4 linked regions of the Homo sapiens genome follow. The protein of the gene in region 4 purifies or fractionates together with the protein of the main gene of each other region. This does not show direct contact. Each region holds a gene or a part of one and is shown on either strand. Other genes may lie near its edges. The genes, in order: GLYR1, CEBPZ, PDCD11 and MACROH2A2.

What was found.
Region 1: the proteins of MACROH2A2 (region 4) and GLYR1 purify together in Homo sapiens (affinity purification with mass spectrometry; 2 studies listed by BioGRID and IntAct, with this or other methods). This does not show direct contact.
Region 2: the proteins of MACROH2A2 (region 4) and CEBPZ purify together in Homo sapiens (affinity purification with mass spectrometry; 2 studies listed by BioGRID and IntAct, with this or other methods). This does not show direct contact.
Region 3: the proteins of MACROH2A2 (region 4) and PDCD11 purify together in Homo sapiens (affinity purification with mass spectrometry; 2 studies listed by BioGRID and IntAct, with this or other methods). This does not show direct contact.

What each region holds. Positions count from the first base shown.
Region 1 is NC_000016.10:4,830,173-4,837,318, reverse strand, and holds part of GLYR1 (cytokine-like nuclear factor N-PAC), read left to right. Parts: intron 1-4,406; coding exon 4,407-4,545; intron 4,546-5,097; coding exon 5,098-5,340; intron 5,341-7,146. UniProt on the Homo sapiens protein: Cytokine-like nuclear factor with chromatin gene reader activity involved in chromatin modification and regulation of gene expression. Acts as a nucleosome-destabilizing factor that is recruited to genes during transcriptional activation.
Region 2 is NC_000002.12:37,214,538-37,221,683, reverse strand, and holds part of CEBPZ (CCAAT/enhancer-binding protein zeta), read left to right. Parts: intron 1-1,210; coding exon 1,211-1,299; intron 1,300-4,646; coding exon 4,647-4,700; intron 4,701-5,265; coding exon 5,266-5,368; intron 5,369-5,475; coding exon 5,476-5,544; exon of another isoform or gene 5,545-6,363; intron 6,364-6,731; coding exon 6,732-6,798; intron 6,799-7,146. UniProt on the Homo sapiens protein: Stimulates transcription from the HSP70 promoter.
Region 3 is NC_000010.11:103,413,514-103,420,659, forward strand, and holds part of PDCD11 (protein RRP5 homolog), read left to right. Parts: intron 1-452; coding exon 453-577; intron 578-756; coding exon 757-817; intron 818-1,491; coding exon 1,492-1,638; intron 1,639-2,977; coding exon 2,978-3,229; intron 3,230-4,278; coding exon 4,279-4,419; intron 4,420-4,926; coding exon 4,927-5,121; intron 5,122-6,024; coding exon 6,025-6,195; intron 6,196-7,146. UniProt on the Homo sapiens protein: Essential for the generation of mature 18S rRNA, specifically necessary for cleavages at sites A0, 1 and 2 of the 47S precursor. Directly interacts with U3 snoRNA. Involved in the biogenesis of rRNA.
Region 4 is NC_000010.11:70,048,061-70,055,991, forward strand, and holds the start of MACROH2A2 (core histone macro-H2A.2), read left to right. Parts: upstream 1-4,785; 5' UTR 4,786-4,940; intron 4,941-7,931. UniProt on the Homo sapiens protein: Variant histone H2A which replaces conventional H2A in a subset of nucleosomes where it represses transcription. Nucleosomes wrap and compact DNA into chromatin, limiting DNA accessibility to the cellular machineries which require DNA as a template.

The sequences.
Region 1 (7,146 bases), on a different chromosome or scaffold from region 4:
TGGGATTACAGACGTGTGCTACCACAACTGGCTAATTTTTGTGTTTTCTGGTAGAGATGGGGTTTCGCCATGTTGGCCAGGCTGGTGTCGAATTCCTGGCCTCAATCCACCTGCCTCGGTCTCCCAAGGTGCTGGGATTCAGGCATGAGCCACCGCACCGGGCCCTACATGTATGATTTTCATTTAAGAGGAAAGCAAATCAGAAGTGTGCAAGTTTTTGAAAATACCAGATTTTAATTCATTTTGATTGGAGTAATCTGAGAGTGCCTTAGTGGCGGTTCTGTATTCATAGATGAAGAGACTTTTTATAGGAAGAGTGTCAGGTCACCAGGGTAAATTGGCTGTGTTACAGGTGCAGTTATGCCAGCAGCCAGGCAGCAGCAACCCACCAGAGCAAACCTGCAAACCAGGAAGTCATGGAGGAAACCCTCTGGGCAGTCGGCATAGCCTGTGTTCTAGGGCAGAGGCCTTTAGTATTGATTTGTTTTGTTTTTTTTTTTTTTTTCCAATATAATATGTGTTCACCATTCAAAAACAAAAACTTGTCAACATTGAAACAGTTGCATTCATCCCCATCCCACAGCCACCCAGTTAGACCAGTTTCTGATGATGTGTCCCTCCAGAGATATCAGTGCGTGGTCAGTCCATTTTCCTTGTCTTTGCACGAGTGGTAGCACATAACATGCATTGCTTTTTATCTTGCTCATCTCCACGTAGCCAGATATCTTACGAGACATCCGCTTTCCTTCTCTGTAATGACCTTGCCTGTTTTCAGCTATTTACTATCACAATGTGTCATTCATTCTACTGTACATAAAAAGCAAAGTCTCCTACTTTAAATACAGCTTGAATAAGCTTGATTTTTCTGACTTCCCAGCCACAATTGGGCTGAAAGATATAGCTCCATCTAAGTCTTGGGAGGATGATAGGAAAATCAAAAGTTACAGCTTCTATCAAGGAAAGAAACAGTCACTTAAAAAACCAACAGTAGCAACAACAAAAACACTAAAGCCTTACGCACTGGAGCATTGTAGCACCTTTTAACTCACTGGTGAGCAGTACATCCTCCTGAACATCTGGGAAGGAATCATTTACCCAGTGATTATTTATTGAGGACCAGTGGTGTGCCAGGCCCGGCTGATGTGCCTCCGTGAATTAGACAGTGGTGCATTGTTGAGGCGCCAACTGAAAAGCATATTCTCATTAAAAAGACAGAGGTAGGCCAGTTGCAGTGGCTCATACCTGTAATCCCAGCACTTTGGGTGGCTGAAGTGGGCAGATTACTTGAGTTCAGGAGTTCGAGACCAACCTGGGCAACATGGTGAACCCCATCTCTATAAAAAATAAATTTAAAAAAGATGAAAGAAGTGTAACCTTTAGAGAAAAAATTGTATTCAGATAGCCAAAGTGATTTAAGTTTGGTTTGCTTTCAAGAGGTAATCCCCATAGAGCTCTGGTAAGCTGGGTTTTTTTGTTGTTACTGTTTTTGAGGTGGAGTCTCACTCTGTTGCCCAGGCTGGAGTGCAGTGGCACAATACTGGCTCACTGCAACCTCCGCCTCCTGGGTTCAAGTGTTTCTCCTGTCTCAGCCTTCCGAGTAGCTGGGATTACAGCTGCGTGCCACTACACCCAGCTAATTTTTATATTTTCAGTAGAGACGAGATTTCACCATGTTGGCCAGGCTGGTCTCAAACTCCTAACCTCAGGTGATCTGCCTGCCTCGGCCTCCCAAAGTGCTAGGATTACAGGTGTGAGCCACCGTGCCCAGCCAAGCTGGTTTTTTATGGCTGTTTTTTGATGTAACAGGATGCTTCTCCAGCAATAAGTTGATTCCTTAAATAGATTAACATTTCTTGGATTTACCATCCTATTCATACTGTCAGTTCATTTAGCCATTTTAATGTTTCGAAGATGGTTGTAAAGAGGAAAATTTTAGTATCTCAAATGCTTTAAAGTGAGTGGAATTTTGACTGTACAGTTCCTTCTAGCAGAAATCAGTAAACCTTGTAAGATGCTTCAACAAAAAATGGGGTTGATTCCTTGGCACTTCACAGACATCCTCACCTTTCTGTTCCCTCAGAATCGGGTTCCTGTGAGGCTGGGTAGTGGGAGGCAGGGATGGAGGTAGCAGGATGGCGTGGGTGGGATTAGCAAGTCTCGGAGTCTGTTGTCCCATCTCAAGGGGTTCCATAAAAATCACCTTTTTGGTCCTATATTGGGAACTTGTGTGGTTCTCAGCTTCTGACCAGAAGCTCCTAGGAAGAACTGGCTGGTCACGACTCCTTAAGCTTCATCCTTGATACTGGTTGTGTCATCTCAGACCCACGGGTTAGTATGGTAGCTTCACTGGCTTTTGGGGCTGGGTCTGACTTTGCATCTGATTGCTCTGGCCTGTCATTAGCATCCCTGTAAGGAGAGGGAACGGAGTCAGTTCAGGGATATTCTTGCCAGAAAATCTGGGGTCGAAATCTCCTTCCACTTTTCCTCCCAGCAGATTGGACTCATTGGCGCTCTCATGTTGAATTTCAAACTTTAAGATGAGTTGGTCACTGGAAAGGAGTTTGCTGGCTCACACCTGTAATCCCAGCACTTTGGGAGGCCAAGGCAGGTGGATCACTGGAGGCCAGAAGTTCAAGACCAGCCTGGCCAACACAGGGAAACCCCGTCTCTACTAGAAACATAAAAATTAGCTGGGTGTGGTGGTGCATACCTGTAGTCCCAGCAACTCGGGAGATAGAGGCAGAATTGCTTGAACCTGGGAGGTGGAGGCGGAGGTCGCAGTTAGCTAAGATCGTGCCACTGCACTTCATCCTAGGTGACAAAATGAGACTCTGTCTCAAAAAGGAAAAAAAAAAGGCCAGGTGTGGTGGCTCACGCCTGTAATCCCAGCACTTGGGAGGCTGAGGCAGGAGAATCACTTGAACCTAGGAGGCGAGGTTGCCGTGAGCCAACATCGCCCCATTGCACTCCAGCCTGGGCAACAAGAGTGAAACTCCGTCTCAAAAAAAAAAAAAAAAAAAAAAGGAATTTGCCTAACTCCTCTAGTTGGAGCTGTGCCAGGGAGACCAGCTTCTGTATCTCCATTCATCATCTCACTTAGCCATGGTGGCATGCCTGATAGTGGTTCGCTGCCTGACATCTGCAGGCCGATGATCCCAGGTCTGTGTTTTTGCACAGACCCCATTATCACAACTACCAGCAGCACACTCAAAGTCCAGGTAGCTGGTGGAGGGTTAGTAACATTATTTTTATGTGCAAAGGTTAACACTTGCTGTTAGTGAATATTCTCTAGCTTTCTATGAAGAAAACAACCTGAAGCTTGTGAGATAGCTGGGTTTCTGTATCCTTAACCTGACCTACTTTTTCTGAAGGTTATGCTGTGAAACCTGTATCACAGGCTAAAACATGTAAACTAACTGATACCTTGTAAAGCCTATAAAATTATTTTGTGCTTGGATTCTATAAGCTGCATGCCATTCAGGGAAGCCATAGAAAGCCAGCTGCAGCAGATTTGTTCAGGTTAGTGTGACAGATCAGAAACCCCAGAATTGACAGCTGACTACTTTCACTTTCATGTGTTACACATTGATGGTTGAAATTAAAAATTACATATCGGAGGTGTATGTTCTTCTACCTTTAATCTCAAGCATCTTGTTTCTATTTTTTTTTTTTTTTGAGACATCATAAAACAGCATGCCATCTTGTTTTTAAATGCCTCCTTTTGTAACTGCTGCCCTTATTCCAAACCATGTGTTCCGTGTTTTGTGTGGTTTAGTAGCCATGGTTACCATCATTTATGAACAAATATAGGCTCAGTGGCTGTGAATATCCATAGGAACCACAAATTTTAGAAGATGTTGCATTTCTTCAGCTCTGTAACATCCCTGACTCTCTGTGGATCAACAGATCATAAATCTGGTTCCCATTGTTGACAGGCAGCAGGCATTTTCCTGCATAGTAATGCTGCTATCATCTATCACATTTCCAGGTACCCTGATTCCCAGGGATCTGTGTGTGGCCATTTGTGCTGCCTGGTGAGAATGGGAAAGGGTCTCCAGATTTCTTTCTGCCCTGAGCAAGTGGCAGCGTATATGTGGTTGGGCATTGGAGGCTGATAGACGATTGTGGAAATAAATAATCTGCAACACAGTGCTTTCACTGGAGGAACTTGATTTGTGGTTGCTGCAGTGGTGGTGATGGTTGTTCTGCTTGACTTGTTTCAAGAAAATATACTTTAGACATAAGACTCTGAGATGGTTGATAGCATGTTTTGAAAGAAATGGCAAGGCCTATTGCAAAGTCCAGTTAAACCAAATGGATATTTACACCGTGCCATAGTGAGGTTGTTGATACTTTAGGGCATATGCTATATGGTTCACACCCTTTTTGTGTTTGTTTTCTGCTAGTGCCTGGATCAAAGTGGAACAGCTGAAGCCATATCATGCTCATAAAGAGGAAATGATAAAAATTAACAAGGGTAAACGATTCCAGCAAGCGGTAGATGCTGTCGAAGAGTTCCTCAGGAGAGCCAAAGGGAAAGACCAGGTGAGAGACACAATGTTCACTTTCTACCAATGCCAGACTGGTGATTTTTGCATAGCAACTAACAGATTAAATGTCACCCAAACGCAAACCTTTGTTCTTCTGAAATGCTACTGGAGAAAGCTACTTCAGTTCTAAGGTGTCAGCGTTTTGCTTATCAGTTTGAAACTCCATGCAGCTAACCTTTCTGGAGTAGGTTGTTGCTTTTAGGAAAATTGCTTGGACCCAGGAGAAATATCTCAGCATTTGAGTCTAGCACAGGCCATTTCTTCCTTTCATAGCACACAGATTAGGAGCATAGCCTCTGAAATACATATACTGCCTAGATTTAAATCCTTTCTTCTAGTTTTGGGACATAGGGAAAGTGACTTTTGATATATATATTTTTTAAATCTGCTTCTCCCAATGTCTGGGACGACAGCAGAATCTATTTCTAGGGTCATTGTGAGGAGACCACACAGAGTGCCTGTAGCAGCACATGGCACCTGTAAATGATGGTGGCGATGGCGGCAGCAGCTGTGGTGGTAGTTATCATTATTATTATTAAACTTTCAGACGTCATCCCACAATTCTTCTGATGACAAGAATCGACGTAATTCCAGTGAGGAGAGAAGTAGGCCAAACTCAGGTGATGAGAAGCGCAAACTTAGCCTGTCTGAAGGGAAGGTGAAGAAGAACATGGGAGAAGGAAAGAAGAGGGTGTCTTCAGGCTCTTCAGAGAGAGGCTCCAAATCCCCTCTGAAAAGAGCCCAAGAGCAAAGTCCCCGGAAGCGGGGTCGGCCCCCAAAGGATGAGAAGGTTTGTTTTCTCTCTGCAGCTTCCGGGATTAGTGATGTCCTTTTAGTACAAGGTAGAGTTAAGCTCTACAGTATGCTTATGTAGTATGCTTATCTATACTCTGCTCATGGAGTGGGAGCAGAATTCTGTGCTCAAGAATCCTGCAGGGCAGGTGCGGTGGCTCATGCTTTATCCCAGCAACTCAGGAGGCTGAGTCAGGAAGATGGCTTGAGCCTTGGAGCTCAAAGTTGCATTGAGCCGATTGCACCACTGCATTCTAGCCTGGGTGATGGAGTGAGACCCCGAATCTTATTTAAAAAATTAAAAAATAAAGAATCCCATAGACCAGGTGAGAGACACGGCCTGGATGCAGGTGTAAAGTAGGAGCGCGAGGCAGGAGAGCAGTCCACTTGAGCCGGTGCACAAGGGCTGGCCCTGGGAGGGGCTTAGCAAGAAAGAAGGGTAGGCATTCCAAAGATGGAGGGCACAGCCCGTGTGAGGCTCGGTGCTGGTGGAGATACTCTCGAACAGGGAGAGGATAGTGAGGAAAGCCGAGAAAAAGGAAGCTTGTCCCTGGATCGTGGAGGGCCTGAAGGTCTACTGAAGCAGCGTGGTACTAAAGCGTCTTGGAGTCAGTGGGGGCCCGGGAAGGTGACTGAGCCAGTGGCAGTGTGTGCCTCCCGTGTGTGCACCAGTAGTCACCGAGTGCAGAGGGGAAAGTCTCAGAGCCAATTAGGAGGTAAGTCTAGGCGTGCATTCATAAGGGGGTAATTGCAAATGTTGCAAGCAAAGAGGTGAGAGGCACTTCAGAGGAAGAGTTCTTAAGATTCCATAATTGGTTATATAGAGGATGAATGAGAAAAAGGAAAAGAGGATTTCCATCTTCATTCCTGGGAAAGTGGTCATCACTTTCTTAAAAGTAGAGGACTGGGGATGTAGAGGTGGCTTGTGGAGAAAGAGTACCAGTTCTGTTTGGAATGTCAAGAACTTGAGGCAAGGCCTAGACAGCCTGGGAGCTTGGTGTGACCTCAGGACTAGAAATGTAGATTTGGGAGGTGAATTTGTAAAAGGGTAGTTGAGTCCGGGCAGTGGAATGGGTTTGTTTCAGGAAGAGAGGGAGAAGAGGGAAGCGCGGAGGCCTGCATTGCCACAAGAATGCCGTGCTTGGGGCAGGAAGGAGCAGGAGGAGCTAGCAAGATGAGATAAAGCAGTGAGAGTGCCTCTCTCGCCTTCTTGCTGACAAGATTTGGGGCCGGTCTTACAAGGCCACAGAGAAGAATTTCAAAGTGAAGGGGACTGTGTCAGGAACGCGGTAGGATTGTCAACAGCAGGATAAAGAGAACAGAAGCCAGATGGCTGGCAGCAACAGTTGGGTGACGAGGCCATGATGGAACATTAGACCTTGGATCAAGGCTCAAAAATTCAGACACCAGCGAGCCCAGGCAGGTAATGGAAGCAACTGTAGCTGACTGGACCTAAGAAGCAGTGGCACGGGTGCCAGGCACCCCAGCTGACCTGCCTTGGTGCTCAGAGCAGCAGGGCTGGCCATGGTCAGGGAGTCTGGGGAGGTCATGCTCTGTCCACAGGGTTCTAGCCAGCTTCTGCCAAATTGTCTGTTTTTTCTCAAGAGAAGCTGGGAAGGCCAGTTGTGGTGTCTCATACCTGCAATCATAGCACTTTGGGAGGCTGAGGCAGGAAGATCACATGAGCCCAGGAGTTCAAGACCAGGCTGAGAAGCATAGTAAGAGCCTTTCCCTTAAAAAAAAAAAAAAAAAAAAGACAAAGTTGGCCAGGTGCAGTGGCTTATGCCTGTAATCCCAGCATTTT
Region 2 (7,146 bases), on a different chromosome or scaffold from region 4:
TCCATCAGTTCCCCTGAAGACTAAACTGAGAATAATCCTTTAGAAGGATGAAGAGCTTGTGTGTTGGAAGGTAGTCAGTTCCTAGTTTGTTCTGAAAAATCTTTGTTTTAAATTTTTTTAATCCTGAGTTTCTAAAAACATGAAGATAATGTCAGACCTGTTCCAAGTGAGAATTATTTCTGGGCATACTTTCATGACAAATATTTGAAGCACTCTAAAGCTCCAAAAGACTTTAGACCTAGTTCATCTTCAGATTATTTCCATCTTAACGTTTCCACCTCTTTGGCCCCAAAATGGGCACCTTTTGTTGCCATTTAGGAAAGGGAGAAGTTTGGGGTTTTTTGGTTTGGTTTTTGTTTTTTTTGAGACAGGGTCTCACTATGTCACCCAGGCCAGGCTGGAGTACAGTGGGCCATTATGGCTCACTGCAGCCTCAAACTCCTGAACTCAAGCGATCCTCCCACCTCAGCCTCCCAGGTAGCCGGGACTACAGGCTCGTGCCACCAGGTATGGCTAGTTGTGTTTTTTGTAGAGACGAAATCCCACTCTGTGCACCGGCTGGTCTCGAGCTCTTGGTCTCAAGCAGCCTTTCCACCTTGGCCTCCCAAAGTGCTGGGATTATAGGCATGAGCCATTGTGCCCAGCCAAAGGAGAAGTTTTGAAGGGAGCTTTTACTTACTTATTTTTGAGTCAGGGTCTTGCTCTGTCAGGAAGGCTGGATCACAATGGCACGATCTTGGTTCACTGCAACTCCCATCTCCTGGGCTCAAGTGATCCTCCCACCTCAGTCTCCCGAATAGCTGGGACTACAGGCACACACCACCACACCTGGCTAGTTTTTTTGTTGTATTTTTTGTAAGAGATGGGGTTTCACCATTTTGCCCAGGCTGGTCTCGAACTCCTGAACTCAAATGATCCACTCGCCTCAGCCTCCCTAAGTGCTGTGATTACAGGTGTGAGCCACTGCACCTGGCCTTGAAGAAAGCTTTTGGTGTTTGGGATAAACATGTTCTCTGCTTTATTCAAGAGCAGATGCTAGCTTAAGTACCAAGACAAATTCTTGAGGGAGCTCAGAGTTTTTAATCTAGGTTGCTTGGCTAAGTAAGAATGTTGGAGATATCTGTTGAGAATATTAATGGTGGTGCTTTTAATGACCTCTTGGGCTAGGAAGAAAGCATTTGAGAAATCGTATTTTTTTTGTTATTCCTAGGTGGGAAACAGTTAAATAAATACGATCCATTCAGTAGAAACCCTCTGTTCTGTGGAGCTGAAAATACAAGTCTTTGGGAACTCAAAAAGGTAAAATAATTTCAAATTGTCTTTTATTCATTTATGCTATATATATATATATATATTTTTTTTTTTTTTGAGACAGAGTCTTCCTCTGTCACCAGGCTGGAGTGCAGTGGCATGATTGTGGCTCACTGTAACGTCCGCCTTCCGGGTTCAAGCCATTCTCCTGGCTCAGCCTCCCAAGTAGCTGGGATTACAGGCGCCCACCACCACGCCCAGCTAATTTTTGTATTTTTAGTAGAGACGGGGTTTCACCATGTTGGCCAGGATGGTCTTGATCTCCTGACCTTGTGATCCGCCTGCCTCAGCCTCCCAAAGTGCTGGGATTACAGGCATGAGCCACTGCGCCCGGCCTATGCTGTATATTTTTGCCCTTGAGGATGTAATGCCTTGAAGTTTTTGTTTTTTTATGATAATTATAAGCATTAATAAACATTAAAAGTCCACATTTGGGGGAAGATACTATGTGAAGTGTTCATTTTGTAGAAAATCTTAAGTGTGCACGTAAAATAAGGATGTCATGCATGGGTTATGACTGTTGCTTTTTGTAGGTAGATTATTGCATATAGAGTTGAGAAAATGGATAAATTTTGCTTTATTTATTAGATACCTCTGAAAAGTTTTATGATAAAATTTTTTGCAAGTAAAGTTACTTTTCTGAATTTGTAAGAGGAATTCATATTTTTAATAACCTTTCTGTGACTTTTTGTGTAAAGCCAGTAAGTATCTTATGCAGCTATTCTCAAAGTGCGGCCAGACCACTAAGAGTTCCTGATACCTTTTTAGTGAGTCGGCCAGGTCACAGCTCTTTCCATAGTAATACCAGTACATTATTTGTTTTCATCACTGTGTTGACGGTGGCACTGATACTATAAAAGAAATGATAGGTAAAACTGCTGCAGCTTATCCTGAATAAAGACAGCACCAAGCTGCATCAGAAGCCATTATATTCATCACTGCCACATATGTGCAGTTAAAAAAAAAAAAGCCAGTATGACTTAAGAATGATGACACAGGGAGAATTACTGATTTTAGTGTCTTGACCTTAAAGTAACATGTCTTTTTAGTATTTCGTGTGCATACATAGCAAGTATGCGTAACATACCTGTGCTGCCTACCTAAAGCATGAAGGTTGTCACGTGTCTCAAGGACAAGTGCTTACCAGTTGTTGCAAGCTCATCTAGCTGCTCTTTCATGAAAGACTGACAAACTGGTTATTCAGGCTTAGGTATTTGGGAGATATTTTCTTGAAAATGAATGAAACAAAAAAGCTGGCAGTATTTGTTGTCAGCAATAAAATTCAAAAATAAAGCTTTCGAGCAAAGATTAAAGTTTTAAAAATCTTGTAACCACCACCTTGAGCTTGACAGTTTCTCAATTTGTAAAACTTTTCTGATGAAATCAGTGGTTCTAACAATGTGATTGTTGTGGTAAAGTATAACGAAATGTGCCAGTGTTTGGAAGGACTGCATATGGTATTTTTCCAATGACCAATGCACAATGTTACAAATTCTTTTTTTTGAAACGAGAAGGTTCTGTCACCCATACTGGAATGCAGTGGCGCGATCTCGGCTCACTGCAACCTCTACCTCCTGAGTAGCTGGGATTACAGGAGCATGCCACCATGCCCAGCTAATTTTTTTATTTTTAGCACAGACAGTGTTTTGCCATGTTGTCCAGGCTGGTCTCGAACTCCTGACTTCAGGTGATCCACCTACCTCAGCCTCCCAAAGTGCTGGGATTACAGGCATGAGCCACTGTGCCACCTGAATGTTACAAATTCTTGAGTGAATAAATGATTGATTCAAAGTAGACCAAATAATTTTAAGTAGCAAGTACCAAAAGCCAATTGAATATGGGTTTCAGATTCCATATTACAACTAATCTTTGGTTTTGGTATAGTACTAAAGAAGAAAATTCACAGCTATGTGAAAGACTATTTTCTACACATGAGGCCAGATTGTATGTTTCAACGTGGAATACAGAAGCAGATGAAATAATCCACTCTCTTCTGTTAAGCCAGACATTAAAGAGATTTGCAAAACTGTAAAGTAATACTACTCGCTATATATTTCGTCCTGAAGCATAATTATTTTTCTTTTTTTCTTTTTTCTTTTTTTTTTTGAGGCAGAGTCTTGCTCTGTCGCCCAGGCTGGAGTGCGGTGGTGCGATCTCAGCTCACTGCAAGCTCCGCCTCCCGGGTTCACACCATCCTCCTGCCTCAGCCTCCCGAGTAGCTGAGACTACAGGCGCACACCGCCACGCCTGGCTAATTTTTTGTATTTTTAGTAGAGACGGGGTTTCACCGTGTTAGCCAGGATGGTCTCGATCTCCTGACCTCGTGATCCGCCCGCCTCGGCCTCCCAAAATGCTGGGATTACAGGCATGAGCCACCTCGCCTGGCTGCATAATTATTTTTCATAAATATGCTACTTACTAGTATGTAGTAGCTTTATGGTTTTTGTTTTTGTTTTTTGTTTTTTTTTTTTGAGACAGAGTCTTGCTCTGTTGCCTAGGCCAGAGTGCAGTGGCGCGATCTCGGCTCACTCCAAGTTCCGCCTCCCAGGTTCACACCATTCTCCTGCCTCAGCCTCCCGAGTAGCTGGGACTACAGGCACCCGCCACCACGCCCGGCTAATTTTTTGTATTTTTAGTAGAGATGGGGTTTCACCATGTTAGCCAGGATGGTCTCGATCTCCTGACCTCGTGATCCGCCCACCTCAGCCTCCCAAGGTGCTGGGATTACAGGCATGAGCCACCGCGCCTGGCCGCTTTATTGTTATTTTTAATGGACCTATAAGTATTTACAATTTTTCTGTTTATTTTTATAACATAGGTGTCTGTAGATATAAACCTGTTGAATAGAAACTGATGGAATTTTTGGTTTTTAAGTGTAGGAAATGGTCCTGAGACCAATATGTTTTGAGAATCACTTTTTTAATGTATTGGCTTAAATTTCAAATTTTTGCATTTTCATTTTTGTTGTTGTTGAAATAGGGTCTCACTCTGTCACCCAGGCTGGAGTGCAGTGGTGCCATGTCAGCTCACTGCAGCCTCGACCTCCTGGGCCCAGGCAGTCCTCCCACTTTAGCCTCCTGAGTAGCTGGGAGTACAGGCACGCGCGCACCATCACACCCTGACTATTTTTGTACTTTTTGTAGACATGGGGTTTCGCCATATTGCCCAGGCCAGTCTCAACTTCTGGGCTCAAGCAATCTGCCTGCCTGAGCCTCCCAAAGTGCTGGAATTACAGGTGTGAGCCACCACACCCAGCCCGATTTTCTTAAATAAGCTATAAATGTACTAAGAGTCGACCTTAGAAATATTGATATTATTCACATTTTTCTTTTTAGTTATCTGTGCATTTTCATCCCTCCGTGGCCCTTTTTGCAAAGACCATCCTTCAGGTGAGTCTAAAATAAATCCAAAGATGAGAAATAAGAAAAAAAGTATCATTTTAGATAATCAATAATTGGTCATACAGTGTTTTCTCTAACAGAGAGAATCTTGTACATTTTACTGCTCGTATAAAGAAGCAGTGACTTGTTTCATACAGAGTAGCAGATAACTTTTCCCACTCTGAGATGAGTGGAAGCAATAAGACATTGAAAGCCACGCAGTTATTTATTTATTACCTTCTAGCTCCTCTCCTGGAGAAATACTGCCTCACTTTCCCATTTGCTGTGTTTGCCACTTCAGGGTTTGGTTCCTGATTAATGGTTAGATGGCCTGCATTATTAATATTAGTCTATCCATCAAATCAACATTACATCCTAGAATATGTATGTATATGTATCTGTGTGTTTAATTTTTTAAGTATAATGTGCATGAGAGAGATATTTGAAGAGTCATTTATTGCATATTTGTATCTTCAATACAGTGTAATAGAAATTATCTTTTTCTTCCTTTTTCTTACTTGGATTCATAGACATAATTTGAATTAAGTTTTTAAATCCCCGCTCCACTTTTCAGGGAAACTATATTCAGTATTCAGGGGACCCACTGCAGGATTTCACTCTAATGAGATTTTTGGATCGATTTGTATACCGAAATCCAAAGCCCCATAAAGGCAAAGGTATGCTTCTATTTAGTGAATTATTTGGCTTTCATTTTTAATACATAATAAACAATATGAGCTTATAACTAGGTTTTGCATTATACTGTCATAATTTTACATTTCAGAAAACACAGATAGTGTTGTGATGCAGCCGAAAAGAAAACATTTTATTAAGGATATTCGTCATCTTCCTGGTAAGTATAAACCTTAGACAGTTGAAACTGAAAAGACAATATAAGACAAAGATGCATAAATTGTATTATTCTTTGTTCTAATTTATCAGAATAAAACCTGAGCATCAAAGACATTATCCATCTTTTTTCCCAAGAATAGGTATTCTTAAATCTACTGTATCTGACTGGGCCTTTTTTTTTTTTTTTTTAACTTTATTACAGCAAATTTGAAACATATCCAAAATAAACAAAATAGTATGATGAACCCCCTCCCCATTACCATCACCCAGCTTTGACAGTTGTCACCATTTTATCATCCGTAGCTTCATCCACAACCCCTATGTATATAATTATTATTGCTTACAATTCAGACCATCTTAAAGCTCTCTAATATCAGCTTAGCAGCACAAAAACCCACAGCTGGTTTTGTCACAGAGCATCATTTTAAACTTAATAACCTACTTCTATATTTGCTAGCCATCTTCTGGATCTGAGTCTGTTGTTGTATTCAAAGCAGACATTTCTTTGCATACCAGATCTCATCTCCCTTTTGTTCAGAGACCAGGATTAAATTAGACCTTATAGATCATTTAATTTCCAGTGACTTACTTCACAGAGGTCCAGAGATGTAAAAGGACTTACCCACAGTTAGTAAGTTAGAATTAAAAGCCAAATCTCCTTTTACTCAGGATGAGTCAGCAATTTTTATTCTGAAGAGGTAAAACTGATTTCTTGTAGTTCCTTATTTCTTAGTTTTCCTCAGTATAAAGGAAAACTCTGTTAACTTCCTGTTTATTCCCAGAATGGCACGCATTAATGGCAAGCTTGTCATTTTTTGAGCTGAAAATGACAAGTTTAAAGTGATTATTTATTAAAATAACTCTTTGAATTTTTTATTTCTCTTGAAAGTTGGGTCCTGGATGCAAATGAAGAACAGTAAGAGAACCCTGTTGTTTCACTGTAACGGCACTGACAGCTATGTACTGCCTACTTTATGCTGTAGCCAGTGAAGTTTCAAATGTTGGGGGGGTCTTCACACAGACTTTTTCAGAGATTGTCCCTTGCACTCCAGAGTCCCTTCTGTCTACCTTCCCACACAATTCTGAGATTTTTAGAATTACAGATTATGCTGTATTTTGTCTTAAGAGCTTGAGTAACATAAAGGGGATTGCTATATGAAGTTAAAATGTTTAAATTTATTTTTGTAGTGAACAGTAAGGAGTTCCTTGCAAAAGAAGAAAGCCAAATACCAGTGGATGAAGTGTTTTTCCACAGGTACTATACATAATATAGTTTCATTTGGGGAAACTGCTAAAATTTAAATTTTTAGATTTCATAAAATGCTTCATTTTATGAAATAATCTACTTCAATAATCTACTACTGTGTGTAAATAGACCATGGAACATTAGTGGGAGAAGTGGCCTTAGTTTTAAATGCTTCATTTTATGAAATCTAATCAGCATATTTTGAAAAGATCAAAGGATATGTCTGTGTTTGTTAAGAAAATTTACAAATCCGTCATTTTGCTAATCTTAATATATCTTAGTAAAACTAAAGTAAATTTGGGAGTTTTGTTAATTTAGCATATAAATTTTGTTTTATGCTTCTTTTTGGAATTTAGC
Region 3 (7,146 bases), about 33 Mb from region 4:
ATATCTGATACTTGGTTAATAGTTAAGTATAAGGATGAGTTAGGATCCAGACCAGGGCCCAGCAGAGTTTTTCTTAAAGGGCTATGTCATAAATACTTTAGGCTGTGGGCCCTGTGGTCTCTGTCCTAATTGTTCAACGCTGCTGTTATGGCATGAAAGCAGCCATAGACAGTACGTAAATGAACAGATGGCTGTATTCCAATACAACTTCTATTTACAAAAACAGGCACTAGGCACAGTTGACTGACCTGTGTTCTGGACTTTCCCTGACCTTGCTGAAATTCTGTGATGATAAAGAGCAGTTTTTTAGTGTGAAGAATTACTTAACCAGGCAATCAAAGTACTGTTTTTATGGTACATGATAAGTGTTGAGTCCTCTCTATGGGCTGTAAGGTCTCATTGGCTCAGACCTGTTGTCCCTGGCTTATCCTCAATCACTTGGTACTTTGCAGCTCAGCCATCTCTCTGATTCTAAGAACGTCTTCAATCCTGAGGCCTTCAAGCCAGGGAACACTCACAAGTGTAGAATTATTGACTACAGCCAAATGGATGAACTGGCCTTGCTCTCTCTACGAACGTAAGTCTGTCATTAACAGGTAGGGGTGTAGAGATGTGCACCTGTACATGTTCATATTCCATTTCTCCTGGCTGTGCTTGGGAAGGGTTTTCTTTCTTGCCAGCATGCCTGTGGTAGCCCTGAATTTTAGGCAACCTCTGCCCTAGTTTATTTAATTCTGTGTTTTCTCCTTGTCCTAGGTCTATTATTGAAGCTCAGTACCTTAGATATCATGACATCGAACCTGGGGCAGTGGTAAAGGTAAGACCTCAAGCATATAATTAGGTACTGCCTCACCATCAGGCGTTCTTTAGTTCACGCACAGGTGACTGTCAGCCCGTTAGTCCTCATGTTAACACATTGAATGTCATGTTCCTTGCTTCTGCCTGCTGACTAGAATTTCTTTCTCTTTCTTTGGGTAACTCATAGTTAATTTCAAGGTAAGATCTTACTAGCACCACCCAGCTACACAAAGGCAGTAGATCATAAATCCTGAGATTTGGGATTTGATGGTGGTTAGTAGACCTGATCAAAAGTTAGTCCTGTGATTATTGATCTACCTGGGATATTAGTGAGAAGCCAGTTCCAGGTACCTGTCCTGTCCGACCATTTGGCTCTAATCGAGCAGCTCCCTTTATATGTAGAGTTTATTCCTTAGGAGACCTTGACATAGTCCCTTCCTTTGGGGAATGTATTTTAAGGCACACAGAAAGCACATGCTCACACAGAAAGATGTGAAGGCTCCCATAAATAAAGCTGACAGAATAATCCAGCTCAGTGTGGGGTGTGTGCTTCACCCATGTGCCATCTGGAATAACAGGCACAGTTAGCCCAGGAAGTTGGCTGTGAAGGGGAGGTATGACATGCCTTGTTGTAAGAGGTGGGGGAAAGGCCATTCTTGAGACATTGTGGCAGCTTATCTTTGGATTCTCTAGGGCACAGTGCTAACCATAAAGTCATATGGGATGCTGGTGAAGGTGGGCGAGCAGATGAGGGGCCTGGTACCTCCCATGCACCTGGCTGACATCCTGATGAAGAATCCGGAGAAGAAGTACCACATCGGGGATGAGGTCAAGTGCCGGGTGAGCCTCCTGAAGGGTCTCTTGGGGTTTTGGCTAGATGGGAAGAAAGCAGTTCTCAACTGAAGTTTCTGCCTTTTTCCACAAAGTGAGTGTGTAATGTCTGTAGTGTGTCTTGTGCTGTACCTGGCATTGGGAAGAGAAAAGTGAGTCCCCGTTTTGTGTAGTATAATTGGGAGTTAAAATATTCATACGTGATGAGAGAGCAAGCCAGCCTGTGATCTTTTGCCATGTGGCTTGGTGCAGGTTGTGTGCTGTGGTCACACCTGAGAAAGGGGAGGTGAGGGTGGGCTGGAGCAGCCAGAATTGTTGACGTTATCAGTAGCGACTGCCACGAACAGGACTGCCACGAACAGGTATTCCGTGCCAGTTTCTATGCTAGGCATGTGACAAGCATTATTTCATTTAATCCTTGAAACAACCCTAACAATTAAGCACTATTATCTTCATTTTGCGGGTGGGGAAATTAAAGCTTCGGAAAGCCAACCGTCTTGCCCAGAGTCACACAGCTAATACATGGCAGAACAATTCAGCTCTGTATGACAATAATGTTTTCTAGATTTCTGGCAGAGGTGGAACTTGAAAGGATAGGTAGGATTTGGAAGGTTGGGGAGAGCAAAGGTTGTGTTCTAGGCACAGAAATAGCCCTGGCAAAGCTGCCAAAACATGGGTGATTTATGACAAAGGCTCGAATCCGAAGGAAAGCTTCATAGGGTTGTGAAGATCCAACATGATGATGCACACAAGAGTGCTCCACGGGCAGGCACTCAGCATGTTAGATTTTCCGGTATTCAGTTTATCTCATCGTTATTGACTCAGCAGAGGTAATGATTGCCCATTGGTGCAAAATTTTACAGTAGTGGGATCAAGGGTTAAAAATACTTTTTCTGTCTTTAAGGAGATGACCTTCTGAAGGGGTGAAAGACAGTTGCATCTCCATCTTATTTCATAGCTAATAAACGGCAGTACTAAGGTGGTAAATTGGTTCATCATTGGTTCTGTTAGACTAGATGCAAAGCCCACTAGGAAGGAGCCAAGATGGTGTAGAAGTTAGTGTAACCAAGACTCCATAGAGGTGATGTAAGATAATTAATGTTGCTTCATGGTCAGGAGAGGGTAGTTTGCAGCAATTTATGGGAGGAATTACATTTGAAATAGTGATTTGTATGCTCCAGATTGTCATACAGCAGGAAGAATCTGCCACTGAGATGATTAGAGGAAAAGCTATAGCAGGTTCTTGGGGAATGGCCCCGTGGCTTTTGGGTTTAAGAGGTTGCAGAGACCAGCTCAGTGGCTCTCATGATAACAGATAACTTGATGACAGCCTGTGTCCCTCCCCTAGGTTTTGCTTTGTGACCCTGAAGCCAAGAAGCTGATGATGACCCTGAAAAAAACCCTGATTGAGTCCAAACTACCTGTCATTACCTGCTATGCCGATGCCAAGCCTGGTCTGCAGACACATGGCTTCATCATCAGGGTCAAGGACTATGGCTGCATTGTGAAGTTCTACAACAATGTGCAGGGACTGGTGCCCAAGCATGAGCTCAGTACTGAGTATATCCCTGACCCGGAGAGAGTTTTTTACACTGGCCAGGTAACCCTTCCCCTAGACAGGTCCCCTTTACCCTTGGTGACCCCACAAACACAAATATGAAGGAGCAGTAAGTAGTGGGGCTGCCTTTAGGAGGCTGAGGAAGAGAGCACATGGGGCAGTGGGTGTGAGCCGGCTAAATGGAGGAGACGGGGAACAGAACAGAGAGAAAGCCTCAGCGGGGTTCAGCAGAAGCTGGCAAGCTGATGGATCTCAGGCACGCATGGAAGAGGTCAGTCTTTACTTGTAATAAACCTGTGCCTCTCATATCGGAAATTGTTTTGAGGTCACTGTCACCACATGGGGGCAGTGCTGTAAAACTAGTAAGTCTTGGTATCACTAGGAAAAGCATTTTTTTATTCCTTTAAACGACTTTAAACAGATAGATAATAATTGTACATATTTATGGGGTACAATATGATATTTCTTTTTTCTTTTCCTTTTTTTTTTTGAGACAGAGTTTCCTCTGTCACCCAGGCTGGAGTGCAATGGCGTGATCTCAGCTCACTGCAACCTCCACCTCCCAGGCTCAAGTGATTCTCGTGCTTCAGCCACCCAAGTAGCTGGGACTACAGGCATGTGCCGGCATACCCGGCTAATTTTTGTATTTTTAGTAGAGATGGGATTTTGCCATGTTGGCCAGGCTGGTCTCGAACTCCCTGGCTTCAAGTGATCAGCCTGCCTTGGCCTTTCAAAGTGCTGGAATTACAGGCCTGAGCCACTAAGCCTGGCCACCATGTGATATTTCAATACATGCTTACAATGTGTAACGATCAAACCAGGGTAATTAGCATCTCCATCACCTCAAAAAGAAAAATAATTTTTAAGACTTGGATTGTACAAAAAAAGTTACTTATGTCTTCCATTTATCCCAAAGGCTGCCCTGGGGGATTGTGTAGCTCTCAGTGCATTTCTTCTTTTCACTGCCTCCTGATCTGATCCAAAGGCTCGGTAGATCTCCCAAGTCCTCTGCAGCAGTAGTGGAGGGCACGTTGCAGGGCCTGCAAGGCTTGCTGGGAGGAGTTGGCCAAGCCTGTGTGGTTTCTTGCCAGGTGGTGAAGGTTGTCGTATTGAACTGTGAGCCATCCAAAGAGAGGATGCTCTTATCCTTCAAGCTGTCGAGTGATCCAGAGCCAAAGAAAGAGCCTGCAGGACACAGTCAGAAGAAAGGAAAAGCCATTAACATTGGGCAGGTACGTGGACTTCTCTGGACAAGCTATTTTATGTTACAGTGGCAGAGAGCAGGGAACCACTAACACATGGCATATTGGAACCCACGAAGCGGAAAGATAGAGGTAGCTAGATAAGATTTTGGGGCTAGAGGGGTTCATACGCATTCCTTCCTGTGTGTCAGAACAAATGGAAGCTGTCCCTGAAAGTCCTGTTACAGTGAGGCTTTTCAGCAGTGGGCTGCTGACCTCTTTCCTCTCGGGTCCCTAGGGCCAGCCTGCAGTTCTGGCTTTCCTGGGGCTCCGTGGAGGGACTTGAGAGAGGAGTGCGATGGGTCCACCCATGAGTCCTGGTGAATGTGCACGTACATGCATGCTGGGTGGTTGGGGTGGTGGGTGGGGTTTGGAAGAAAGCTGCCTCTTAGAGATCCTTGGTGCCGGAGTTTAATGCCTCCAAGCCCTGCCTAATCCAGACCAGGTTGTTCTCTGTTCATGACAAGTGCTATTTTTGTCTTTCTCTTCCCTGGGTAGTTGGTAGATGTGAAGGTTTTAGAGAAGACCAAAGATGGGCTGGAGGTGGCTGTCCTGCCCCACAACATCCGTGCTTTCCTCCCCACATCTCATCTGTCGGACCACGTTGCCAACGGCCCATTGTTACATCATTGGCTCCAGGCAGGTGACATCCTTCACCGAGTCCTGTGTCTGAGCCAGAGCGAGGGGCGTGTTGTATCCTTGACTGGTATCTGTGGAGCAGAGGAAGGTGGGGGGCCATGGGTGCTTGGATGGGAAATTCTGGGGAAATTAGACAGCTATTTGACCTCAGAAATATCTCCACAAAACCAAACCAGTGATGAAGCCTGTGCTATGGAAAGTAAGAGCAGGCCTGAGTAAGTGCTGCCAGCAGATGCTGGTGGTCAGGGCGGAGTAGCCTGAAAGGTTGCAGAGAGGGGGACTCTCGGAGGCTGGAGAAGGAGGCCCAGTGGGGTGCTTGGGAGCACATCTAGTTTTCTTGGGGCTTTCAGTGCCTGCCCCTTGGGTTAGAACCAATAATAAGGTGGCTTCTGTCCCCCTTTCCTCTTTTTTTTTTTCCCCTATGCCTTCTCCCCGCGGGGCTATAGGCTCAGGAATATTCCCTTTGGTCTTTGCATGGGTGCTTTGAAGGAGCTTCTCACAGAATGTAAAGTTCATTCTCCTGGGAGTAAAAATGGGCAGAGGAGGGAAAATGAGTTCATCAGTGTAAAGAGGGAGTAGTAGAGGATTGTGTGATGGCTGATCCAGCTGCCAGACCAGGGGGATGAGCCATCCCTTTTTGGTGTCCTCTAGTAATCTGCAGATTAGTGAATCGGGAATGGAATAAAACCGTGATTCTCAGCTGTAGTGTGCAGTTGGGCCATGCAGATGGCTGGGCCACACCAAAGTTTCTAATTCAGTAGGTCTAGGTGGTGCTTGAGAACTTGCATTTCTCCTAAGTTTCAGGCGATGTTGATGCTGCTGGTCTGCACACTTAGAGAATCGCTGTAGCAGCAGAGATCAGCCTGCAGTTCTGTCCTTCTCTGTGGAGAAAGGAGATGGGAGAGATGGACATTTCATCTGCCCTTTCTGGAACATTCCTTGATGAAGTACCACTAGCTTCTTTGCAGGAAGCCAGCCTTGGTCTCCACAGTAGAAGGTGGCCAGGATCCCAAGAACTTCTCAGAAATCCATCCTGGAATGCTGCTCATTGGTTTTGTGAAGAGCATCAAGGACTATGGCGTGTTCATCCAGTTCCCCTCAGGTCTTAGCGGACTGGCCCCAAAAGCTGTAAGTTCAACTCCATGTACAAGGGCTTTGAGGAGAGATACAAGGTCACAGAACCTGAGGGCGGGTAGGGAGGAGTAGGATACTTTATTCCTTTTTTTTTTGAGACAGTCTTGTTCTGTCGCCCAGGCTGGCTTGCAGTGGTGTGATCTCTGCTCGCTGTAACCTCCGCCTCCTGGGCTCAAGCGATTTTCCTGCTTCTGCCTTCCAAGTAGCTGGGATTACAGGTGCCCACCAACATGCCAGGCTTTTTTTTTTTTTTTTTTTTGAGTAGTAGAGACAGAGTTTTACCATGTTGGCCAGGCTGGTCTTGAACTCCTGACCTTAAGTGATCCACCTGCCTCGGCCTCCCAAAGTGCTGCGATTACAGGTGTGAGCCACCGCACCTGGCCAAGGATACTTTACTCTTTTGAAAGATTTTCAGGGGTACCTCTTAAGGTGTGTGTGACATAAAGGCACCTGGGAGGGGTGAGTGCAGCTGAGCTTTTGGCCCATGTTCCTCTCGCCCAGCTGTGTGACCATCTGGAGGAAGGGACACCTTTCCCACTCCACACTACACATTGAAGGCCTTAGTCTCCAGTGTGAAGATGACTGCACTTGTTTTTATTCTCTCAGCACACTTAGACAGGGAAATTGATCATCCTGAGCTACTGAGTACAGGTTTTGCAGACTTCTGAGGTTTTTGAGGTGTTAAGGGACCAGAATGTCTTTGAAATTATTACCTCCCCCACCCCCATGTCATTGAGTCCTGCACTTTCAGATGGGAACAATCCCAGCAGTCCCCTAGCAGAGCCTCCTGGTGTGCCTGGCACGTCAGCCGAGGCCTATTGAGGGGATGGGACTCACCAAAGTCATGGAAGACAGCGAGCAAATGGCGTGCAGCTGATTGCTGCTGCAGATCATTCATCAGTATTTCTTCCCCTCTGTAGGCCTGTCTCCCTGGTGTTTTGCCTG
Region 4 (7,931 bases):
GGGCTCCATTTCTTGGCTTTGAGGTAATGAAAAATTAATTACCATACTTTACAAGTAATAGATTCCACTCACAGCACTCCTTTAGAAGTAAATATATCATAAATAGTTACTATTATACCAATGGTTGGTGGATTGGGCAGCCTGTCGTCCATAAATCTTTTTTCAACAGACATGTTATTTCTTCTGGGGGAACAAACAGATTTGTTTTAGATCAGAGAGTCAACTGACAGATGGCCTTTGTAAAAACACACCATTTGTATAAATAAATTATAGTTTCACTATGGTATTCTGCATTTGTGGATTTGGAAAATCAATGCCCCCATTCTCCAGACTGGGCCTAAACTGTAAAGAGCAATTTTGTTTAGGTGTGAGGTCACATTGCACAGATCTGCCAACACAGATGCTAAAGTCCAAACTCTCTGGATACTTGCTGCCACTTCTCATCACAATTGTCACAAAGAACTCTGCCTGGAGGTAACAGGATGATCTCCCAGAAAGCTCCGTAACCGATCAGAGCAAGTTACCAACTGGCACACTCCCCTTAGCTCTGGGCTCTGTTTCCATTAAACGTAATGATACCACGTGCCTTATTTTCCTAACCACAACTTTGCATAATTGGGACTGACAGTGTATTTGTCTTAAAAAGCTGAAACACTTCATTTTCTTTTACAATATAGTTCATCAGTTAAACGCTAAACATTCGGTAGATTTCTTTAAAATCCAAACCAGCCCTAACTCTGAGCACACTGGAATCTCAGTCATTACTCATCTTACAAGGTATACACATGTAACATATGCATCAAATATTTGATTCATATATAAATGTACATATCTAAATATGCATCTATACACACACATACCTACTCATGCAAATCCCCTTTCCCAGAACCAAAGGGTCAAGACTTAGTATCAAAAAAGACATAGTTTGTCACTGTTTTTAAGAACCAGGACTAGTAAAATGTTTCTTTTGCTAGGAGACCAAGACATTCATTTTAGCCAGAAATTATAAGCATAGTCTTTGTTGGCCTAATGATTGCCTGCGTGTCCTTTTTTTTTTAAGGATATTATTCCCCCTCCACACATGATTAAGATCCTAAAGTCATCAGTCGTGATCAAGGAAATAAAAGTTTAACACCAATCATGTTCACTATTCAAAATATAAAAACAGGAAAGACTTTGTAAGTTTCCAGCTTAAACAAAAATTTATGTGTCAAATTGTCCAGTATTTTCCTAGCTACAACGTACTTTTGGACGCTGTGTTTATTCTTTCACAGGGTGGGATACTGTTAGCCTGGTGCTTTGTCTGCATTCATAACCTCAAGCTCCCACATTGTTATTTAGAGTTATACCAGTTGGTGTCTTGATAAAATTAATACAGTGTCTAGAGTTCCTAACTTACATCCAAAGAAGTGCATAAACCAATGATTTCCATCTGTTTCTATGACACTCCCAGGGAATCTCAGGTTACTTCAAAGGAGATCAGAAATTCCCAAATAAAATTAATTTAGATCTACAAATCTTACGCATATACTTACATATGCCAGATATAAATATATACCTACATGCACATAGGTAAATTCTGGAAGATGCAAAGTCAGGAAATTACTAAGGTAATTGCATATTAAGATCCTAGGAGGGTAAAATGATCACAAATTATAATATGTATCGTAAACTGATTAGAACTAATCATGAAAAATAAAAGTCCACTCAGTTTACACAAAATCACAAATTTGGATCAAGAAAAAGGGTTTGGGGGGTAAATCAATGAAGCTATTTTTGAAGTAGATGATTTTGTGGATGAATTACTAGCAACCCAATAGGATACAAATCTGGTTGGATGACTGATTCATTTGATTCTTTTTTTTTTTTCATCTCTAAATTATGCTACATGCCTCTCTCTAAATGGAGAAGTGCTTCATCCTGCATCTCAATAAAATTATTAAAGACATGTTTGCTGTAATGGAGTCAACTCACAATCAATACCTGTATTCATAATATTATGCACACATACAGGTCAAGGGTTAAGAAAATGTTTTCAGTGCAACTGTAATCAACCAACCCTCCTGTAATTAGGCTGTTTGCTGACTCCTTAGGGACATTTATTGGGAGGGGCCCAAGGGCCCCTCTTAGACTCAGATCATGTGACTGAGTGCAAAATTCCTTTGCTTAAAACAAATGCACTTCTCCACCTTCAGATTAAGGCAGTGATTAAGAGCATGGATCTGCCACTTCCTAACTCTATAACTGTGGGAAAGTTTCTCATCCACTCCCTGCCTCAGTCTGTAAAAAGGAGAAAATAGTGCTTGCCCCATACAAGTGTTGAAAGGATTAAATAAGTTAGGATAAAGTGCTTAGTACAGTGCACATAGTAAACATTCAATAAGTGTAAGCTCTTATCATTCTTTATTATTCAACTTGTCAGAGGTTCCCCGAGCTAGAGACCACTGCGGAACTCTAGATTACTTATCAACTTATGATCATGTTGACTTTTTAAAATGTATTTTAATTTTATATAATATTATATGATACTATCTCAGTGTTAAATTTTTATGTGTTAAATGTTCGGTATTAAACACACATAATTCAACTAGATCTGCATATTAAGTGGCATATTTGTCCCCTATACATCCTGAAAAGTTTGGAATTGGCGGAAACTGCATTGACTGGGTATCTGGACATGCATTGGAGGATCTCCCACTAATGTCCTGCGAGGCCATGGCTGAGTCATTTCACCCTTCCAAATACCAGATTTCTTCCTATAGCAAAGGTTTCCACTAGGTGAACTCTAAGAACCCTTTTATCCTAAGAATCAGAGTATTTTGAAGCTGACCTCTTCCTTGATTTTCTGAGTTGTGACAGCATCATCTGTCTGAAGAAACCAACCAGTATGAAATGGGAGAATCCTAACCAGTAAATTTACTAGATCCAGCCTCTCTCAGGATAGCACATAACAAAATGCTAGAATGAACTGTTATATAAAATTCACATAAAAATGACCACATATGCCACTTTTATTGGGAAATTACAAGGAGAATGTGAATCTAATATCTACTGATGAATTATTCAACTATATTTCAGTCAGCCTGGCTGACTGGATGACAGAGTATGAGTATTTTTCAAGCACTCATAGAAAACTCCTGAACTCTCTTGAATGTTGGCTTGATGGTTATTTCTGGTGAAGAATGGACACCTGAAGGTATAAGAAGAGAGACCCTTTCTTTAGGAATGGGAAAGGACATCATTATGGGATGCCCCAGGGGATCATTTGAAACCCTTTAAATATACATCTTGGGGAAAGAAGACTTTATCCTGACTGGATATCTGACCTGGAAAATACCTTCCAAGACAAAGAACAGTGAGGTCATACACAGAGGGCGTGAAAGGCTTAGGAAAAGAGTAAAGGAAGCCCCAAGAAACAGAGACTGTTGAGTCCAGGGGAGTTTGAGAAGCCATAGGAGACTGAAATAGAGGCTTATGCATATGTTGATGATATATGCGTGATTTGGAGGAAGTCAGAGAGAAACATGGCTGATTTCTCAGCAAATACACTTTAAAATGCACATGTTCTAAACCTAACCCGCTATCTATAAACGCCAGCAATAGCCATGATTAACTAACTAGTAGAGACGCAGAGGGTGGTAGGCATGAGTTCTTCCCACTCAGGCACTGGGAGGCTTTCAGTCACTCCAAAGTCCCCACTGCCTAAATAGTTACAAGTTTGTAGTAGCAAATATACACAATATTACCAAATGTAACAGCTTTAAAAATCAGCCATTTGGCCAAGGCTGGAGAATTCTGTTTGCACCGGTTTCTCTTTTTGGAAGGGATCAAAATGTTGCCTCTCACAGTCCTTTGACTGTAGGAGAAATCAGAGGAAACCTGGATGGTCCACAGCAAGTTAGTATTTCCCACTGAAATAAACACATTCTTTTGACTCCCCTCCAGCCATGGAGCCCTGGCCAACAACTCACAATACAAAGCCGAGACTGGCTTCCACTAGGAACACAGCAACTGCTAATCCCCATTATCACACCCGACAGTGTCCACCACACCCCCATAAAGATGCATTTTCTAGTAACTAATAAAAACTGGTCCTGAAGACAATAGCCTCGCGCTCATCTAAATACCCGTTGGGATATTGCAAATTAACACCTTGTAAAGCAACCCAATTAAAAATTATGCCCATACACACAGTCTCACCCACCAAAACATACATCTGCCTCTCCAAATATTATGCAACGCTGGATTCTAAATCGGTCTTAATTTCTAAAAAGCCTACAGGCACGGATATAAATTCTCAGCTCTCGTGGCTGTGGCCGCCCTATGCACTCTTCCCAGTGGTGGACACAAACGTTAATGTACTTGTTATTATTTAAGGACACAAAAATATAGAAGGTGGCATTTTTCGCTTTCCCCTTCGAAGACTCTCCCCAGAGCTGCCAGATGAACGCCCACGCCACCTTCTCCCACCAAAGGTGGATCCAGCTAACAGGAGACTGGATCGCGACCATAGCGCGTTTGTGCCCAGTTCTGGGGAAAGCCTCATGTTAGCGAGTGGCCCTCGGCTCGTCTCGCAGATCGGCCAAGTACGCGGAGGCCGCGCGGTTTCACCATTAATACTCCTGAAGGACAATAGCTCATCAAGCCCCACCGAAAGCCCCGGACCCGTCGCGGAGCCTGGGCTGGCGGGGGATGAGGCTGAGCAACTCCTCCTAGAGGTGGTTATGTGGAGAAGGAGCAATCCCTTCTCCCTCCTCCTCCTCCCCCCGCTACTATCCGCGGCCCAGAGAACTGCCGCTTGCCGCCATTGACACGCACAGATAGAACCCAAAGAAAGGCAAAGAGTCCTGCCCGGCACCGGCGCCGCGTGGGCCAAACCTGCGCCCGTGGAGGGGCGCGCAGAGGGCACCGGGCGCCGGGAGCAGGCGGCGCAGCACCAGGTGAGCCCGCCATGGCGATGGCATTATTGTTTAGGGTGCTCCGGGGTCTGGAAACAAAACGCGCCGCCGGGGCAGTGCAGGGGCCGGAGAGAACCACCTCTGCCTCTCCCCCGAGCCCCTGCGGGCGCACCCTCGATAGCCGACCCACCCTCTGCAAAAACAAATTCTTAAATCCAGCTGCCCAACTTGCTTCCTTGGGCGATAAAGGGGGGGCTGCTAAAGAAGTGGTCAAATTCCTGCGGCCAGCGAGGGGCCGGGGGCGTCGAGGGTACTGAGAGGGGAAGGAGGAGGGATGCGAGGTTCAGCAGCGGGCCCCAGGCGAGGCTGGACCCGGAGGAAGCGGAGGTCTCCTGGGAATGCGGAGTTTCGGGCGCAGGAGCGGGAGGACGGAGGCGCCCGGCCGCCGATGGGCACGGGGCGATGGGTGGGGGGCTGCGCAGGGCCCGAGGGAGCCCGGGGAGGGCCGCTCGGGGGCCTCTGAAGGTGCCCGGGCAGGGCGCCGGCGGCTCCAGGCTGACAATGGAGGGGGCGCGGAGCAGCCGGGCGGAGGTTAGGGACCCGAGTCCGGGGGCGGGCCGCGCCGGGGAAGGTCAGGTCGGGGACGCCGGGTGGCGGGGCGAGGGCTGGGGGTTGCTGCGCGGACACCCGGGCGCCGCGGGCGGGCGTGCGCCCCGGGGCCGGCGCGGAAGAGGGCGCGAGGCCGGGCACTCCCCTTCGGTTCCCTTTCCGGGGCGCCCGGTGCCGACGCGCGCTGCGCTTTCACCGGGAAATGGCGGCCCGGCCGTGGCTCGCCTGGGCAGTCTGGCTCCCGCTTTGCGCGGGAAAAAATAATAATAATAAAAATATCGAAAAAGGGAATAAAAGTAAACTGGCTGCGGCGCAGGAAAGGGCTCTGCCGGGCGCCGGACGCCGTGCGTATCGCTCGCGGGGCGCGGCGGTTGGGGACCAGCCCTGCCTCCCCCGGCTCCCAGCCTCCAGCCCCGGCGCACCTCAGCCCCAGCCCGGCCAGCCCCCCGGATCGCCCGTGGGTGTCCTCCCCCGCCTTTCCTTGGGGGGGCGCCCTCAGTTCTTGCCCTCTTTGTTCCTTACAACAATGGCCAAAGGGGCATTGGTTCCCCAAGGGCCAAACGAGCTTCCTCCAGGAGTTTCCCGTCGCGTGCAGTGGACCACCGTGGGCCTGACTGAGGCCTGGTCCTTGCCAGGGTTTTTTGGCAACGGCCCTGGATGAGTGAAGGGATGAAAGGCGCGAGAAGAAATGGGCTGAGAAACCAAAGTGCGGGGCCCTGAGTGTTTGAGGGGACGCGATGGGAACCGTGGCTCCGCTGCCCTGATTTTAAGGGCAGTTACCCTGTCACAGCCACGCTGGAACTGAGGTGTCCTTCCAGCTTCTGTCCACCTCAGAGGAATTCAAAACAAGGGCCCAGTTCTAAGCCCCACAGACCCCAGGATCCCCTAGGGGCCATTAGTCCACCGCGGCAAATGGTTTCCTCACTTTGCTCATTTGTGTTTGTTTTGAAATCCAATTGTCACCTCACTGGGCTGCACAGTTGCTACTGAAACGGTTCAATAGGTGAGAGAAAAAGAAAACATTATTAAGAGCGAGAACGTGTCTTCGTGTGTGTTGTTTTGAACCACAAACTAAGCTACACATAATTCTCAATCCGTTTTAACACACTTTTTATTTTCAAACTAAATGTTAAGAGCTCCAAGATTTGGAAACATACTGGTGATTTTTAGAATTGTTTTAGCCTAAAATTACATATAAATAAATAGAGGCACTGCCCGGCGGAAAAGTTTATCTTGAGTCGCATAATTCACATCTTCATAACCCCTCTTTCCTGTAGCCAAATTTCCTTTTAAAACATGCCCAGTTCTCCTCTTCTCTGGTTTTTCCTATCCTACCACAGTTACACCTCACCTGGATCCATTAATTGTCAGACTTTACACATTATTAGTGGTTTCCTCTATATCAAAACTGCGTAAAAGAATTTACCTCCTTGAATCCGGAGTGTCCCTGTGATTCTGACCCTACTCCCTCACCATTCCATCTTCTGTCTGGTTCCCAGGATTTTTAAAGCGCCTCTGGTCTGCCATTTCCCAGTGGGTGGGACACCCTGCTAGCTATTGTCTGAGACAACCACATCTGTTTTCACTGCCTCCTGCCAGCAGAACAGGAGGTGAGTCCTGTCTTAGGCAACTTTAAATGAAAGGTATCTGTAACTTGTTACCGGGGAGGGATGTGCAAAAATTCAGCCAACTTTCTTAAGAATGTTTTTCAACCTTAAGAAATAACCTCCAAGTTAGATGCAGTCTTGGTAAATGGAAAGTATATTGCACAGAGATTAACAAAGAACTTGTGGTTAGAGATCATTCAACAAACACTTATTGAGCACCAAGTCTTTTGTTGTTTGTTTTGTTGTTGTTTTGAGATGGGGGTCTCGCTATATTGCTCAGACTGGTCTCGAAATCCTGGGTTCAAGGGGTCCTCCCATCTCAGCCTCCTGAGTATACACCAATTCTTAAACACCTCTAGATAGGGAAAGAAATGAAATATAAGGAAGTCATTGGGCCCTTCTCTCATAAAGCTTACAACCCCAAGCCTAGGAGATAAAATATACATGCAGGTAAAACAAGGTAAAAAGTGATTTTGGCAAGCTAGTGGGAAAACAGGTACTTTCATATACTGCTGACTGGTGTGTAAATTGATATAACCAATTGGAAGAGCAGTTTGGCACTATAAAATTAATAATGCACACATTCTGTGACTCACCATTCCATTTCTCAGTATGTCACCCAAAGAAGCAGGCATCCGTGAGCTCAGCATGTATAAGGATGTTCATTGCAATTTTGGTCATTCTGAAGTAGAAAACAGCCTAACAGCCATCAACAGGGAATGGCTAAATAAACTCTGGTGCATCTGTCTTCTGGAATATTAGGCAGCAGTTCAAAAGAATGAAGCAGATCTATACATACTGAGACAGAAAAAGATCA